Linked DNA regions of Homo sapiens. The protein of the gene in region 1 interacts with the protein of each later gene in a pairwise test. Each region holds a gene or a part of one and is shown in the gene's direction. Other genes may lie near its edges.

Region 1 (7,052 bases):
TGCACGGATAAAGATATGTGGTTCTTTTGCTCTAAGTCATGAATGTTAAACAAGTATGTGAGTGGACTTTTCATCAAATGAGTTTTGGAAAGTGCATGGCAGGTGGGCATGTAGAAGTAGACCAAGGAGAGTTTGTCTCCTAGGATAGGCAGGAGAAGCAGGCACCTCTGTGCCCCTCAAACAGAAAAGGACAGAGCCTTAGAGCTGAAAATAGAAATAATTTTGCTACAGTCAAGAAATATTAAACTTTCTCCAAAGTAGAGTTAGTGGAGGACTTAGGAGTGGAGGAAGGGATGTCTGAGGTGAGTTTGAGAAGCAGCTGAGCCATGAAATAGTGAGTTCAGTGACGGAGGCGTCCACACCCCAGGAGGAGTTCAGTGACGGAGGCTTCCACACCCTAGGAGGGAAGAGCTTTAGTCTTGGCCTGCGGAGCCTGGCAGGTCATCATTATGTGGGTGATTCTCCTGTCTCTGTGTGGCACACCTAGACCCCCACAAGCTGAAAGTAGCTTTGCAGTGCTGCATTTATTTATTCAGTATGCAAATCCACATTTAGTACCAGCGTATGCCAGAACCTGTACTAGACATGCTAGAGCAGTTCATGTCTCAGTCTGAAAACATAACCCTTTGTTATTGGCCCTTGCCTTTAGGGAATAAGAACATGACTGTTAATAGTAGACCTTGGTGTTGGGAATCCTACTTTTAACTGTGCAAGTGAGAGCATTCTGAAACTTTTTAACATTTTATGCCCTCCTTCCTCTTTGCACTGCTGCTGGGGCCTCTCCTAGAGGAGAATGCATCCGACCTCTGCTGTCTCATTTCCTCTCTGGTGCAACTGATGATGGACCCCCACTGCAGAACCAGAATTGGTTTCCAGAGCCTCATCCAAAAGGAGTGGGTCATGGGTGGCCACTGTTTCTTGGATCGCTGCAACCATCTCCGCCAGAACGACAAAGAGGAGGTGAGTTCCCTCACTGCAGACTGTTTCCGTCATAGGGAGAACTACTGAATCTCTTATTTAATACCTGTCATCAGATGTAGTAGGATTGCTGCTTGCAAAGTGTAAGCCAAACAGGTTTGTTAAGAAAACTAGGATCGTTTCATTGTGTGATGACTTTGGATACTTTAAATAATAGTGAAACCTTTCCCAGAGGAAAGAGATATTAACAAGTATGTTCAGAGTTTTCTAAATTGTGTACACCAAGGGTGTATACATATTTCACAGTGGGAATAATATTTATTAATAAGACTTAAATATAAAGTAACTCAGTGAGGGAGACTCCTACCTTTTCTACAAAATTAGTCTTTGCAATAAAAAGATATTCAGGGTGCAGGTTTTCTACAGAAAATATAGGTTGAGCATCCCTTATCTGAAAGTCATGGGACCAGAAGTGTTTCAGATTTCAAATTGTTTTGGATTTTGGAATATTTGCATTCCATTACTGGTTGAGCATCCTTAATCCAAAAATTGGAGGCCTGGCATGGTGGTTTGCACCTGTAATCCCAGCACTTTGGGAGAACAGGAGTTTGAAACCAGCCTGGGCAACATAGACAGACCTCATCTCTACCAAAAATAAAAATAAAATAAAATAAACTGGGCATGGTGATGCCTGACTACAGTCCCAGTTACCAGGGAAGGTGAGGTGAGAGGATTGCTTGAGCCTGGGAGGTCAAAGCTGCAGTGAGCCATGATTGTGCCACTGCACTCCAGCCTGAGTGACAGTGAGACCCTATCTCAAAATAAATAAAGTTTTAGATTTTGGAACTGAATGATTTCAGATTTTCAGAGTCAATTTTTTTTTTTTTTTTTTTTTTTTTGAGACGGAGTCTTGCTCTGTTGCACAGGCTAGAGTGCAGTGGTGCAGTCTCAGCTCACTGCAGCCTCTGCCTCCTGGGTTTAAGCTTATCTCCTGCCTCAGCCTCCCTAGTAATTGGCATTACAGGTGTGCGCTACCATGCCTGGCGAATTTTTTGTATTTTTAGTAGAGATGGGGTTTCGCCATGTTGGCCAGGCTGGTCTTGAACTCCTGACCTCAAGTGACCCACCTGCCTCAGCCTCCCAAAGTGCTGGGATTACAGGCATGAGCCGCCACACCTGGCCATTCAGAGTCAATTTTCCTTGCACATAAACCTTTTTGAAATAAAGCACAGGGGCCAGGCACGGTGGCTCCCACCTGTAATCCCAGGACTTTGGGAGGCCAAGGCAGGTGGGTCACAAGGTCAGGAGGTCGACACCATCCTGGCTAACACGGTGAAACCCCGTCTCTACTAAAAATACAAAAAATTAGCCGGGTGTGGTGGCACATGCCTGTAGTCCCAGCTACTTGGGAGGCTGAGGCAGGAGAATCACTTAAACCCGGGAGGCAGAGGTTGCAGTGAGCCAAGATTGTGCCACTGCATTCCAGCCTGGGTGACAGAATGAGACTCCATCTCCAAAAAAAAAAGAAGAAAGCACAGGGTTATGTTAATGCCATCTGTTACCAGGGCCTTAGTGGTAGCGTGGGTGGGAATGTCCCCATAGCCTCTTCTGCTTCTGTCTGGACTAATCGCTCCAGGCCTGGACCTCCAAGTTCAGGCACAGGAGAGTTAGCATTTTAGGTCACCTGGTGAAAATGAGTCCCCCAGATTGTGGTGTACATGTCTAGATGACAGCTGTACACACTCCCTTGGCTGCCTTATTGATGATTGTTGGAAGGAAAAATGAAAACACACAAACTTTCTTTAATCAACTCACCTGCAGCGCTGACGTATGCTAGCAGTGTTACTTGTGGTTTTTCATACTCCAGGTAGTCAGCATGTCTGTCTGTGGTACAGAACAGCTTGACACAGAATGCTGTGGGCACACAGAGCCATGGCTCCTGATCGTAAGGGCTTGGCAGGTTCCTTGGGTGATCCAGGTCTCTCTCACTGAGCAAGATGGTTTCTTTCAGGCCTGGCCTGTACTTATCTGTGTCCCATTGAGCTGAATAGAAATCACATCTTTCAGTCCTGGAAGGGACTTGAAGAAACTAATTTGAAAGGTTGATGGCATTTACATAACATGGGAGGCAGAGAGAGCTGATACTTTGTGGAGACGAGTATGGTTGTTTTTTTTCTTTTCTTTTCTTTTCTTTTTTTTTTTTTGGAGAAGGAGTTTCGCTCGTGTTGCCCAGGCTGGAGTGCAATGGCACAATCTTGGCTCATTGCCACCTCCTCTTCCTGGGTTCAAGTGATTCTCCTGCCTCAGCCTCTTAAGTAGCTGGGATTACAGGCATTCCCCTCCATTCCCGGCTAATTTTGTATTTTTAGTAGAGACAGGGTTTCACCATGTTGGTCAGGTATCGAACTCTTGACCTCAGGTGATTCACCCATGTCAGCCTCCCAAAATGCTGGGATTACAAGCGTGAGCCACAGCGCCTGGCCTTGTTTTGTTTTTGAGACATGGTCTCTCTCTGTTGCCCAGGCTGGAATACAGTTGCACAGTCATGGCTTACTGCAGTTTCAACCCCCTGGGCTCAAGCAATCCTCCTGCCTCAGCCTTCTGAGTAGCTGGGACTATAGGTGTACACTACCATGCCTAGCTAATTTTTGTATTTTTTGCAGAGATGGGTTTTGCCATGTTGCCCAGGTTGGTCTCAAACTCCCGGGCTCAGGCGATCCATCTGCCTCAGCCTCTCAAAGTGCTGGAAATACACACATGAGCCACTGCGCCTACCCATATGTTTTTGTATATCTTGAGAAAAGGGGGACTGGCAGGCACCATGTCTAATGGGGAAAGAGTCTGAGGTCTAAGAAGAGACCTGATCTGCTGCTGTTCACCCAGCCCTTGGAGAAGTCACTTGTATTTTCTGAGCCTATTGCCCTGCCTATACATTGCAGTTCAAATATTTTCCACTCTATTTAATGATATTATGCATAAAATGAAGTGTGAAATAAAGTTGCTGTACAAATGTTTCTTAGCATCTCAACATGGACATATTGGAGTTTTGAAGGAAAATTGAAAAGAAACATGAGCCCTGTGTGAGACCCTGGGGACCGGCCTCCAGGCATCTCCAATCTTCCCTTTCCTCCTTTGTAAGGGAGAGACTAACATAGCTTCTCTTAGCCCCCTGGCAGGATCACTGGTTAATCAGGGAGGATAAGCGCTTTCTAAATGATAAAGCACACTAGAAACTACTCTCCCTGCTCATCAAGGGCTCGCCTCTGGGAGCTAATAAATGAGGCTTGTGGATTTGTAAAGATGCATTTTGAAAACATTTTGAAACTCACTTTCACTGCTTCTCCCTTGTCTCCCATCCCCGTTGTCTTCTGGGCCCTCACTGCGGGGTGGACAGGAGGCTTCTCCTTCCACGTTGGTCTCCAAGATCAAACCCTGTCAGTTAGTGTGTGGGCAGGTGGGGAATAGAAGTTCCCTCCCACCCCCCGTAACTTTTCATTGACAAAATTCAAAGTAGCACTCATAATTAAGTACATTGTTTGGTAATACAGTACTACTAATGGAAGAATGGAATTTTTTTGGAGGAGATAATATTTTGCTTAATTGGGGTTCTAAGTTAGTGTTTTCTATTATCAGAATCAATTGCAGATGCTCATCTGTAACACTGATCCATAATGAGGTTTTTACATATTTCGTCTTTGAAATGTCTTTGACACAGATAGGCATGTAAATCGCAAGCATGTGATTTCAGTTGAGCATATTTCTCACTTGGGATGGTATGGAGTATTCTGTGTTTCCCAGAGAATGAAGTCCTCAGAAGTGCTTATTCCACAGCTGTTGAGGTGGCTGCCCCCTGAACTCAGGATGGCTTGCTCTGGGCTCTGCCCACCAAGTAACGTATCTTGTTTTCATGCAGGTTCCTGTGTTCCTGCTTTTCCTAGATTGTGTCTGGCAGCTGGTGCACCAGCATCCCCCGGCATTTGAATTCACAGAGACTTACCTGACTGTTTTGTCAGATAGCCTGTATATACCTATTTTTAGCACCTTCTTCTTCAATTCACCTCATCAAAAAGATACTAACATGGTAAGAGTCCCTCTTAGGAACCTGTGTATTAAAGAGGCTTCTTCTCACAAGTAGGATGCAGTAATACTGATGCTACAAATAAAATGGTGCTCACTTGGCAGCACATACACTAAACAAAGTTGGAATAATACAGAGAAGATTAGCATGGCCCCTGCGAGAGGATGACATGCAAACTCATGAGACGTTCCATATTTTAAAAAAGATATTGAACACTAACTACATACCAAGCATTGGTCTAAGAGCTTCTTAGGTATTAATACTTACTCCTTACAGCACCCTATGGCATATGCATTTTTATTATCCTGGAGGAAGCTGAGGCAAAAAAAGGATAAGTAACTCACTCGTGGTCACATGGTAAATATTGGAACTGGAAGCAAGTGTTGAAGCTGGGGAATTAAGCAAAATTCAAAGCTGTCCATTTGAAAGACAGTTAGACCAGATGTCCTCCGATTTTGCCTGATGCCTGGAACTCCTCTGTGAAGAGAATGGGGACCAGCAGATCAGGGAAGCTAGCCTTTTCCTTCCATCTTAACCCTTTTGGCCCTTCCTGGACTGTGCCCCCAATTAGATAATCTCAGTGCTTCTGAGCAGCCTCCTGAGGGCTACAGGCTTTGCTTGAGCTGGGAGGATTACCAAATCCCCCAGTGAAGTAGGAGCAACAGCCCTGCTTTCAGAGCTCAGCCTTGTGACTCACCAGCTTTGTGACCTTGGGCAGTTCAGTTTTCTGAGCCTTGGTTTCCTCAAATGTAAAATTGGAAAAACAACAGTTGCCTCGCGAGGCTGTGGAAGCACCCAGCACAGCGGCTGGCGTGTAGACTGCTGGAAAGGAAGTGTCCTTGTTCTTGCCCTCCTCCCACACCAAAAGCTTGTAGTGAATAACCACAGGTAGCCTCAGCCTTAAATGCCCATGATTATTCATTCTCAGGGCAGAGCAGGAGCATGCTTCCTGGTGCCTGTGTCCAGAAGTATGTGTTTGCCTTCCTCAGCCCTCCCTGGAAAACAGCATGACCTGTGCTTGTTTTGGCAGGGTAGAGAAGGCCAGGATACACAAAGCAAGCCTTTGAATCTGCTCACCGTGTGGGATTGGTCGGTGCAGTTTGAACCCAAAGCCCAGACATTGCTCAAAAACCCTCTTTATGTGGAAAAGCCAAAACTGGACAAAGGCCAACGGAAAGGAATGCGCTTCAAAGTAAGATGTCCACATGTCTAAACCCCCTTCAGCTGCCCAGACCCCGTGCATGTAATGATAAAAGGTACTTACGGATTCTGTCTGCCAGCATTTTCTACCCCTCGAAGCAGTCTGCAGAGTTGAGACTTGTGATGGTCAAATTGTCAAGGGCCATTAGAATCCTTTGCTTTCAGCAAATCACCTTTGCCCTGGTACAACAGGGCCATTTGCCAGATGTCACTGTGGATGCTGCCACCCTGGTCATACTCCATGGAATCGTGCCTCTTGTCCTGCCTGTGTGTGTGTGTGTGTGTGTGTGTTTGTGTGTGTGTGTGTGTTAGTAGAGTAAAAGGAACATTGATTGTGTGGGTTTTACTTGGCCGATACCAGTTCATTTATTATAATAAATAGTAAGACTTTTCTTAATGAGCTGTGCCTGTAAACCACAGGTTGCAAAACTCTGTCAAGGGCTGCAAAGTCTCTGTCACAACTACCCCTCTACTGTTGTAGTACAAAAGAAGCCTTAGTCTGCTCTGCCCTTGGAGTAGCCATTCTTTATTCCTTTACTTGAAAAAAAAAAAAGGAGCCTTAGTAGGTGAACAAGTAGGCATAGCTGTGTTCCAGTGTTTACGAGAACAGGCGCCAGGCCAGATTTGGCCGGAGGGGTGGCCAGTTTGCTGACCTATGCTATGAGCCACAAATGTCAGAAAGTCATTTTAGTTGATAATCCCAAAGTTCCCTAACTGATGAATTATTTAACTGACATTTCCTAGCTCTGTCTCCAGGCCCAGAATTTCTCCCCCACAGAGTCCACAAAGGAGAGAGCAGTGATGGTAAGTCTAAGTCGATGTGTGTCACTGCCTTCTCCATGCCATCCTTATCCTG
Region 2 (7,052 bases), on another chromosome or scaffold:
TTTTGGATGAAATACATCATCTCCATTGCATCTGTTTGTATGTAGATGCCCTTCTCTGCCCAGCCTAATACTTATAATATGGACTGGAAACTGAAAATGAGCTTACAAGCTGTGTTTTTTTTCCTCATGCTTTTGTTTTGTTTCATCTGTGTGATAATCTACAGATATCTACTCATAAACTCTGAGAAATAAAGTAATATGTTAGAAGAATGAAGTAAATGATTTCTTAGTTAATATAACTACCATGTTTCATTTTGTTACCAATCATAATTTTTAAAAAGGATTTTAAAAATGCTGAATTTTACTTGGCTAGGTGTCATTTCTATGTGTAAAAACAAGCCAAAGGCAGGACCTGTATTCTAAATGGATTATTATTTACTAAATTTAGCTTCCTAGTCCTTAGCATGCTATTTGTCTTTTCTTGCTCTTGGCTCTTGATTGAATAACCTCTCAGTCTTTTTCTTTTCCCCAGTTAGCCTTATATATACACCAAGCTCTTGATCTGAACTACCTACTTACATTTTTTCAGAATTGGCTATTATATAATGATAGTAGTTATTATTATTGAGTGCTTACTATCTCAGTCATTCTCAGAGAGTATATTCTTGAGAATAACATCAACCCCATTTTATAGGTGAGGAAGGAAACTAAGGCATAGGAAGATAACCTAGCTAATAAGGTTATATCTAGCATTGTGACAATTTCTTTTTCTTATTCTGAACTTAATGCCGTAATTGCAGCTCCCATTATGAAATATGGCTTTATTAAAGAACTTCAAGTTACCACTCAGTCTCATTTGTTGGCTCTTCTTCCTTTAATAGCAACACGCCCTAGGACTTCATCCTTGACCCATTTCCCTTTTCCCTCCTGTATACTCTTTTCGGTTGACCATATCTAAATTTGTAACATCACTTGCCATATATTGGCTGATGACTCCAAAATTTGTTATCTCCAGTGTGAACCCCTGTCCTAATGTAAGTAAACAAATGCCTCTATCTTAAACACACATCCTTGAATATCCCATAGGAACCTTATACCCAACATCTCCAAAATGGAAATCATCACGTTTAACTCCAAACTTACTCTTTTTCTTGCATTCTCTCTCTCAGTTGACATCAATACCAGCTGTCCATTTACTCAAGTCAGAAATCTGGTTGTCGTACTAGACTGCTCTTTTTTTCTTTTCTGGACTCTTAACATCCAGTCAGTGTCTAAGAATTTCTTGTATTTATCTTCTTTTCTCCATTGTCATGATCTCTTGAGGAATGATAGAGGGTACAGAACAAAGCAAAGACTAATGATGATAATAGTAACATAGGTATAAACCCTTGAATTTTTGTATTGTACTTAGAACTTTAGAAGCATCTTTATATGTATATTATCTCATGATTTTAGAATAAAGGGGAAGATGTAACAGAAAAGCACTGGCCTGAGAATGACATTCCTGTGGTGGGATATAGGATAATAAGGCTGAGTTTTCTTACATGAGTAAGAAAATTGACTGTGGAAGGAATCCAGAAATGTTTTAGTAACCTTGAATAAAGCTTTTCTAGTTGAGGTAAAAATTCATAAGGGAAAAATATTATTTGTGCAAAGCAAGTTTGTGTATTTTTGTATAATGATGGGTTCATTTAATTTTAAAAGCTTCCCTCTAAATGAAATATGCATTCGAAACGATTTAAAAAAGTAGTTTATACTTAAAATGTTCCTAAGGGAACTATTTTGAAGGTTAGAAATGATTGTGAAAAGATCAGTCTCATTTCAAATTCCATACAAAGCAGCCAGTCCTTCGAAGTGTTGAATGAGAAGCAAAGTCAGGAGGTTGTAATACCTTATTAAATATATTTCATGGCCCCAAGTTTTCCCAGAAGCCCGTTGAAAGGGTCTTAGAAAGTTGTTGCTCCACAGAATTGTCCCTTACTTCCTTGGAATGATGAAGATACTCCTTTATCTGCTGATTTGGTGTAATAATGACATACTAGGAATTTATGAATATTTTAAGATATAAAAACCATGTATTGGAAATTATGAACTGTGGCATTTTAAATAATATTTTGAGATACTGATTCCTAAGTTATCCTGCATAATCAGTTAATGCATATTTTACAAAACATAATGCCATGTAGATCCATTGTTTATTTGATAAAACATTACTTGTGATTATTTCTTTACAAAGTCTGGCATTGGTTGGTCAGCAGTACAATATCCTCTTCTTATACTGTTATTTTTCTAAGAAATTATATTTTAAATGTGTGTCATTTCACCTGTAAAATTTTCCCCATAAGTATTAATCAGATCAGGAGTTTGTGGAATAACATATGTTTTGGACATTGCATTTTTAGAAGAATGTTGACAAACTGGACAGGAAATTGGTGAGGTTACATAGAAACTGCAATGAGATGATGGCGACTGTGCCTTGACATGCTTATTGTTGATACCACCATTACCAGTATTCTTTCACCCGTCTCTGCTGCAGCTACCCACACCTGTTTTATCTAGCCAGGATAGTAGCCCCTTTGTTTACTTCCATTCTGTCTCATGGGATGAGAAGTCCCTCCACCTTTTCAGCCTATCCCATTTAATTCTGTGTTTCTTCCCCAGATTAGTGCAAGGATGGAAGCTTGGGTTGTAGGATTCTGAGGTCTCTGGAAATTACTGGTTCTGTTATTTTTCAGCATAAATTAGTCTAGGAATCATAACAATTTTATAAGATGAGATAGCAGGTTTTAATAGCACATAATGTATAGTAAACTGTGGACTTCTTGCTTTTTCAGCCAAAGATGTAACTTATATATGTCCATTCACTGGCGCTGTACGAGGAACTCTGACTGTCACGAATTATAGGTTATATTTCAAAAGCATGGAACGGGTAAGAGTCAGATTAGATTTTTGTATGTACATGAGTGTGTTGTTTGTAGCTAGTTTTGTTCATTTCTGATCATTTCTAATTAAAGCATTTCTGATTAAGATTTTGATCAGCTCTATAATTGGACAGTATTAATTGCTCAGTTTTAATTATTTTTTCTTTCCTTCTTTAGGATCCCCCATTTGTTTTAGATGCTTCCCTTGGTGTGATAAATAGAGTAGAAAAAATTGGTGGTGCTTCTAGTCGAGGTGAAAATTCTTATGGACTAGAAACTGTGTGTAAGGTAAATGTTATAATATGTATGTGATTTTCTTTGGTTTGAAAAGCTTTGTATTAAATAGAACCTCTGTTTTGAAATTGGTTTCTAAAATATAAAATGGATTTCCAATTAGAAATGTTATTTTAGTATGACATTGATAGAAGAAAACAAAATTTAGCAGTAATAGAAAAGGTGATTCATGAATTAGACTTAATTCTTTTGGGCCCAGTTCAGTCTACATATTTTGATATATTCACAAATTCATAACTTATTTTTTAATAATGATCATCTTGGCCGGACATGGTGGCTCACGCCTATAATCCCAACACTTTCAGAGACTGAGGCAGGTGGATCACATCAGGTCAAGAGTTCGAGATCAGTCTGGCCAACATGATGAAAACGCATCTCTACTAAAAATACAAAAATTAACCAGGCGTGGTGGCGGGCACCTGTAATCTCAGCTATTGGGGAGGCTGAGGCAGGAGAATTGCTTGAACCTGGGAGGCGGATGTTGCAGTGAGCCAAGATAGTGCCACTGCACTCCAGCTTGGGCAACAGAGTAAGACTCTGTCTGAAATAATAATAATAATAATAATAATAATAATAATAATAACCATCTTTAATGCACATAGTACTGATAGGATACCACATAGTTCCACATTGATGATTTCACTTTGAGCCTTATAAAAATCCTGTGAGGTAGGCACAATAGACATTACTACCTTTAATTTACAAATTAGCAACATAAGGCTCTGAGCAGTTCCACTACTTCGTAGTGGAAGAACTAAATAACTAAATATGTTATATTCATCATCACCTATCTTTTCTGTTTCTAGTTCTCATAATTTTTCTTTTTTTTTTTTTTTGAGACGGAGTCTCGCTCTGTTGCCCAGGCTGGCACAATCTCAGCTCACTGCAAGCTCCGTCTCCTGGGTTCACGGGATTCTCCTGCCTCAGCCTCTCGAGTAGCTGGGACTACAGGCGCCCACCACCACGCCCAGCTAATTTTTTTTTGTATTTTTAGTAGAGATGGGGTTTCACCATGTTAGCCAGGATGGTCCCAATCTCCTGACCTCGTGATCTGCCCATCTCGGCCTCTCAAAGTGCTGGGATTACAGGCGTGAGCCACCGTGCCCGGCCAGTTTTTCTACTTCTAAAACAATAGTGTGGAAAAGTTGATATTGTAGACTTTTCTTATGTTCTTATTTACTGGCATTCTTTAAATGCGTTGATACTTGAATGAAACATAGATTGTTACATTTTTACCATTAAGTCATAGGTATTTAATTCTACGTACCACTTCTCCAGGTCACTGTTATTAAGGCCTAATTAACTAACACCCATGCACATTGAGATTCTACATCACATTGTTCCTTTCTTTTTATTCTGCCAGTGCCAAAAGAAACAGCATGTGTATAATTCAAGATACTTTGTTATGCTAATCTTAGAAGTTTTGTGACTCTGGTATTAAAGCTAATGACTTAGTAATTATTTTTGTAGTTTTCTTTTTTTTTGAGACAAGAGTCTGGCTCTGTTGCTTAGGCTGGAGTGCAGTGGCGTGATCTTGGCTTACTGCAGCCTCTGCCTCCCGGGTTCAAGTGATTCTCCTACCTCAGCCTCCTCAGTAGCTGGGATTACAGGCATATGCCACCATGCCTGGCTAATTTTTGTATTTTTGGTAGAGATGGGTTTCACCACATTGGCCAGGTTGGTGTTGAACTCCTGGCCTCAAGTGATCTGCCCGCCTTGGCCTCCCAAAGTGTTGAGATTACAGGTGTGAGCCACTGTGCCTGGCCTGTGGTTTTCCATTATAGTCAGAAGGGCTCTGTGAGTGTAATCGCTGGCAACCATGTGTCAAGCACACTGTTTCCTGATCACTTTTCTGTAGTTTAAGAGTAAGTAGTGCATAGAATATAAGACGATGTGAAAGAAGATAATTTTGAATCTTAATCATTTTAAATATAATTTCTTTCCATGGAACAGGATCGTTATCAATAAACAAAAATATTTGTAGGGCCCCTGACATGGTACTTTCAGAGAACTCTGTGGTTAACAGAATGATTCTGAGTATCTCACCTAGTTATAAAGATATTTACTGAGGGAAAACAAGATATCAGCTTAGGTTCCCGCACATGTTTATTTTAAAAGATAGTAAAGCCAGCATTCTAGTTTTGGATCATATACTGTCTTACTTATGTATTGTGGGTACACTGTAGTGGAGAGGCTTTGTGTGTGGTTCTACAAAATGAGGCATAATAAAGCTATTTTGAATTCTGCCTAGGTAAAAACATTTAAATAAAATGATCAGTCTTAAAATTATTCTTTTCTTATAAATTTTTTTTAAAAAATTTTTTGTAGAGACAAGGTCTCACTATGTTGCCCAGGCTGGCCTTGAACTTGTAACAATTCATGTTTCATTCAAGTATCAATCAATGCATTTAAAGAATGTCGGTAGATAAGAACATAGGAAAAGTCTACAATACCAATTTTTCCCCACCACTGTTTTAGAAGTAGAACACCTCAAGTGTCCCTCTTGCTTTGTCCACCCAAAGTGTTGGAATAACAGGCATGAGCCACTGTGCCTGGCCCTTGAAATTATCTTAATCCCCAGTTTTTTTCTAAGTGCTGTTAAGATACCAGTAAACCGGAACATGAATAACTGCATTCAGTCTGAGCATAGAAAACTGCTTAGGGACAAATGGAAGGGAAACTTGGTCTTTAGACCTTACTGTAGAGCCTGGATAATATAAACTAAACTATTCAGAGTTATGTGTCAGTAGATGGTGGAAGAATGTGGTTATGGAGTGAAGGAAGGAACACTTTCAGGCAGGGTTTAGTTCTATCAAGTCTACTAGTAGCAGGGGACTTAGGAAGAGAAGGTCCAATGCAAATGAACCCTGGGAAGGGATAGTTAGTAGGAAAATAATCACCAGATATAATGAACTGAAGACACGTATGAAATGTAACAACTACTAATCAGGTTTTATAAATAAAGAAATTTATGACAGAAAATGGGCTTTCACAGGGAAAGCACATATGCTGATAGTTTGTATCAGTCATGATATTAATCTTCAGATGTAATATCGTTAATCTCCAGTGGTTACATCAAATACTACCTCTTTCACTGGCCTATTTTGAGTCCATAAGCATAGGTAAATTTCCTGCCCTCTGAATTCTGCTTCATAGTAGAGTACCTTGTGTTTCTTTCAGTTTTTCCCAATAAACCATTATAATTTCCCTGTCTCCAGGAGCTGATGTCTGATTTATTTTTGTATCCCACATTCACAGATCTTAACATTTTACAAGATAGTTCCAAGTAACCTTATTTATTCATTTAAGTAAGTAGTGAACAATTATTAACTTGGTTCCTAAATCTTTTCTAGGATATTAGGAATTTACGATTTGCTCATAAACCTGAGGGGCGGACAAGAAGATCCATATTTGAGAATCTAATGAAATATGCATTTCCTGTCTCTAATAACCTGGTAAAATGTTTCCTGTCTTTGGAAAATTTGTGCTATAATTATTGATGTCGTATAAAGAAACTTGTCTAGGCTGTCTAGAATCTCTACATTTACATCCCTGCTTTGACATTTAACCAGATGTATAGTGTAAGTGTAACTTAGTCTCTTAGATCAATTTCTTTAGGTATGAAATAAAGGAAGCTGGACTAGCTGATTTCTGAGGTCCATTCCAGCACTAACATTTTATGATTATATGATCTTGCTATTCAGGGTGTTTCCATGATGAAAAGTTACCTGTTGTCTTCATTAGGATTTGTAATCTCCTTTTTAATTGGGAGCCAGTTAACACTAGCAATTTGGGAGGGAGGTAAGGGTAGGCAAACCCTGAGTTCCCACTATGTGCTTTAGACAGTGTTAGACTCCCACGTTTATATCATTTCACTTCTATGTAGCCTATGGTGGT
Region 3 (4,075 bases), on another chromosome or scaffold:
GCGGTTTTGATTTGCATTTCTCTGATGATCAGTGATGATGAGCTTTTTTTCATATCTTTGTTGGCCGCATTGTGTGTCTTCTTTTGAGAAGTGTCTGTTCATATCCTTTGCCTACTTTCTGATGGGGTTGTTTATCTTTTATTTTTATAAATATGTTTAAGTTCCTTGTAAATTCTGAATATTAGACCTTTGTCAGATGAGTAGATTGCAAAAATTTTCTCTTATTCTATAGATTGCCTGTTCACTCTGATGCTAGTTTCTTTTGCTGTGCAGAAGCTCTTTAGTTTAATTAGATCCCATTTGTCAATTTTGGCTTTTGTTGCAATTGTTTTTGGTGTTTTTGTCATGAAGTCTTTCCCCATGCCTATGTCCTGAATGGTATTGCCTAGGTTTTCTTCTAGGGTTTTCATGGTTTTGGGTTTTACATTAAGGTCTTCATATATTGCTTAAGCTTTCTAGAAAGTGCTTGCCCCTGATCCCTTCAAAACATTAACTTTCTGGAGTACTGTTCTGTTGTATATCTTGACCTGGGTGTGATTACCTAAATGTATACGTATGTCAAGATTCACTGAGCTGAACATCTGAAGATTTTGCACTGTGTGTGGTTTATATCTCAGTACAAAACTTTTAAAACTTAACATGCTGGGAGAGTCACGTTATGCTCCAGCCTGACTTCTGCCTTTGTATCAACATCAATCCCTTGTTTACTCATCAAAGTAGTCACCATTGTAGCAAAACAGATGCTATTAACTCACTTCACTCACACAATGCCATGTGAGGGCTATGCTGTTTTGATTCCCATTTTACAGATAGGGAAATGGAGGCACACAGAAGGTGAGGGGGCAAACCCAGCATTCATACCCAAGGCGGAGCATTGCAGAGCCGCTATGGCTGTCAGCCATGTATTCAGATGGGCAATAAGCACATGAAAAGATGTTCTAGCAGAGCAATACAAACGAAAACTACCGTGACATACCATGTCACAGCCCTCAAATTGGAAAAAAGAATAATAATCGTATGCTCCCAAGTTCTAGTGAGAATGCAGAACAATGGGAACTGCCAGGTATCACCAGCAGGAGCCTCTCTGCAGGCAATTTGGCAGCATCTGGTGAGGTTGAAAAGACCATATTCTACTTCTCAGCAGTTCCACCCCTAGGAAAATTCCTTAGAGAAACACTCGCATATGTGCTTGAGGAGATGTGTACAAGGATACTCAGTACAGCATTGAACACACTACCGAGGAGCCCTGGAAATCACTGATTACCCATCAGCCTGGGAAGGGGTGGAGAAACTGGTTTATTCCTTCAATGCAACTTAACAAGGATGAAATTCAGAAAACATGTTGGGTCAAAATGTCAATTGATAAATACCAGATGGTACCAGTGATGTAAACTTTGATAAAACACAAAGTAATACTGTATTTTGTTGCTGGATACTCACAGGAAAAGTGTCACAAATCTGCACAAAAAGGAAGGTCACATGGCAACTTGAGAAGAGTTGTCCCTCAGAGTGAAAGAGGACAGTGGGTCTGGGACGGGCAACACGGGAGACTGGAGCTGTGTCTCGGCTGACACATTTTCAAAGATAGTGACACGTGTGAGGAAATGTGTACATTAGGTATTTCTTGGTGAACAAATACTTAGTACTTGGGTGTTTAGTACTCTGTGTTGTACTTTCCTGTATGTGTCAATGAGGCAGTAGTTAAGGAAAGTATGTATTATGGTAAACTTTGAGTAAAGGGCTTATTTACAAATCAGCAGTCACAGCAGATGGGTGGAACACGTGAGTTCTCATGACGTGCGTGGCATAAAGTGTAACTCAAGTCTCTGGTTCTCTCCAGCAGCCGAATCCAGTGGAGCAGCGTTACATGGAGCTCTTAGCCTTACGCGACGAATACATAAAGCGGCTTGAGGAACTGCAGCTCGCCAACTCTGCCAAGCTTTCTGATCCCCCAACTTCACCTTCCAGTCCTTCGCAAATGATGCCCCATGTGCAAACTCACTTCTGAGGGGGGACCCTGGCACCGCATTAGAGCTCGAAATAAAGGCGATAGCTGACTTTCATTTGGGGCATTTGTAAAAAGTAGATTAAAATATTTGCCTCCATGTAGAACTTGAACTAACATAATCTTAAACTCTTGAATATGTGCCTTCTAGAATACATATTACAAGAAAACTACAGGGTCCACACGGCAATCAGAAGAAAGGAGCTGAGATGAGGTTTTGGAAAACCCTGACACCTTTAAAAAGCAGTTTTTGAAAGACAAAATTTAGATTTAATTTACGTCTTGAGAAATACTATATATACAATATATATTTTGTGGGCTTAATTGAAACAACATTATTTTAAAATCAAAGGGGATATATGTTTGTGGAATGGATTTTCCTGAAGCTGCTTAACAGTTGCTTTGGATTCTCTAAGATGAATCCAAATGTGAAAGATGCATGTTACTGCCAAAACCAAATTGAGCTCAGCTTCCTAGGCATTACCCAAAAGCAAGGTGTTTAAGTAATTGCCAGCTTTTATACCATCATGAGTGGTGACTTAAGGAGAAATAGCTGTATAGATGAGTTTTTCATTATTTGGAAATTTAGGGGTAGAAAATGTTTTCCCCTAATTTTCCAGAGAAGCCTATTTTTATATTTTTAAAAAACTGACAGGGCCCAGTTAAATATGATTTGCATTTTTTAAATTTGCCAGTTTTATTTTCTAAATTCTTTCATGAGCTTGCCTAAAATTCGGAATGGTTTTCGGGTTGTGGCAAACCCCAAAGAGAGCACTGTCCAAGGATGTCGGGAGCATCCTGCTGCTTAGGGGAATGTTTTCGCAAATGTTGCTCTAGTCAGTCCAGCTCATCTGCCAAAATGTAGGGCTACCGTCTTGGATGCATGAGCTATTGCTAGAGCATCATCCTTAGAAATCAGTGCCCCAGATGTACATGTGTTGAGCGTATTCTTGAAAGTATTGTGTTTATGCATTTCAATTTCAATGGTGTTGGCTTCCCCTCCCCACCCCACGCGTGCATAAAAACTGGTTCTACAAATTTTTACTTGAAGTACCAGGCCGTTTGCTTTTTCAGGTTGTTTTGTTTTATAGTATTAAGTGAAATTTTAAATGCACAGTTCTATTTGCTATCTGAACTAATTCATTTATTAAGTATATTTGTAAAAGCTAAGGCTCGAGTTAAAACAATGAAGTGTTTTACAATGATTTGTAAAGGACTATTTATAACTAATATGGTTTTGTTTTCAATGAATTAAGAAAGATTAAATATATCTTTGTAAATTATTTTATGTCATAGTTTAATTGGTCTACCAAGTAAGACATCTCAAATACAGTAGTATAATGTATGAATTTTGTAAGTATAAGAAATTTTATTAGACATTCTCTTACTTTTTGTAAATGCTGTAAATATTTCATAAATTAACAAAGTGTCACTCCATAAAAAGAAAGCTAATACTAATAGCCTAAAAGATTTTGTGAAATTTCATGAAAACTTTTTAATGGCAATAATGACTAAAGACCTGCTGTAATAAATGTATTAACTGAAACCTAACACTGTTTTCAGGGCTGTGAGTGTGCATGTGTTGGAAATGTGCATGGTGGCCATCTGATTTCTTTGCCCGGGTCTGCTTCATGTACTTTTTATCTCACCGGCAACCTTGCAGGGCTCTCCCAAAATTTCAGCAAGATTGGGCATTTAAGTGTATTAAACAGTGCAGATTTTAAGAGTCACGACTGTCTATGAGGATGGCTTTTGCAAAAGTGAACGCGCAAAACTCCAGGCTCTGAATAGGGAACACAGCAGTTGATAGTAAGGGATGCGAAGATACTGGTTAAATAAGCCATAGTTGACGTCTCATTAGGTAAGAATTTTTAAAATTCTTCAAACAATATTGCCAGTTGGAGATTATGTCGTTTACATATGTACGTTCTAAGAATGCTGAATAGTTGTAGCAGTAAACTAAAATTGACCATTTTTTGGCAATCAGAATAGATCACGTGGAACAGAGCTTAAAGAAAAAAAATCAGAATAGGACTCTTAAATGACTAAGTGTATCTTTCATAACGATGA

Evidence for each region. The genes of interacting proteins can lie anywhere in the genome.
Region 2: the proteins of MTMR12 (region 1) and MTMR2 interact in binary tests that used the Homo sapiens proteins (3 or more experiments, as listed by UniProt).
Region 3: the proteins of MTMR12 (region 1) and MTM1 interact in binary tests that used the Homo sapiens proteins (3 or more experiments, as listed by UniProt).

What each region holds. Positions count from the first base shown.
Region 1 is NC_000005.10:32,232,909-32,239,960, reverse strand, and holds part of MTMR12 (myotubularin-related protein 12), read left to right. Parts: intron 1-787; coding exon 788-960; intron 961-4,831; coding exon 4,832-4,999; intron 5,000-6,026; coding exon 6,027-6,188; intron 6,189-7,052. UniProt on the Homo sapiens protein: Acts as an adapter for the myotubularin-related phosphatases. Regulates phosphatase MTM1 protein stability and possibly its intracellular location. By stabilizing MTM1 protein levels, required for skeletal muscle maintenance but not for myogenesis.
Region 2 is NC_000011.10:95,858,089-95,865,140, reverse strand, and holds part of MTMR2 (phosphatidylinositol-3,5-bisphosphate 3-phosphatase MTMR2), read left to right. Parts: intron 1-2,774; coding exon 2,775-2,869; intron 2,870-3,038; coding exon 3,039-3,149; intron 3,150-6,508; coding exon 6,509-6,610; intron 6,611-7,052. UniProt on the Homo sapiens protein: Lipid phosphatase that specifically dephosphorylates the D-3 position of phosphatidylinositol 3-phosphate and phosphatidylinositol 3,5-bisphosphate, generating phosphatidylinositol and phosphatidylinositol 5-phosphate.
Region 3 is NC_000023.11:150,669,588-150,673,662, forward strand, and holds the end of MTM1 (myotubularin), read left to right. Parts: intron 1-1,840; coding exon 1,841-2,008; 3' UTR 2,009-3,556; downstream 3,557-4,075. UniProt on the Homo sapiens protein: Lipid phosphatase which dephosphorylates phosphatidylinositol 3-monophosphate (PI3P) and phosphatidylinositol 3,5-bisphosphate (PI(3,5)P2). Has also been shown to dephosphorylate phosphotyrosine- and phosphoserine-containing peptides.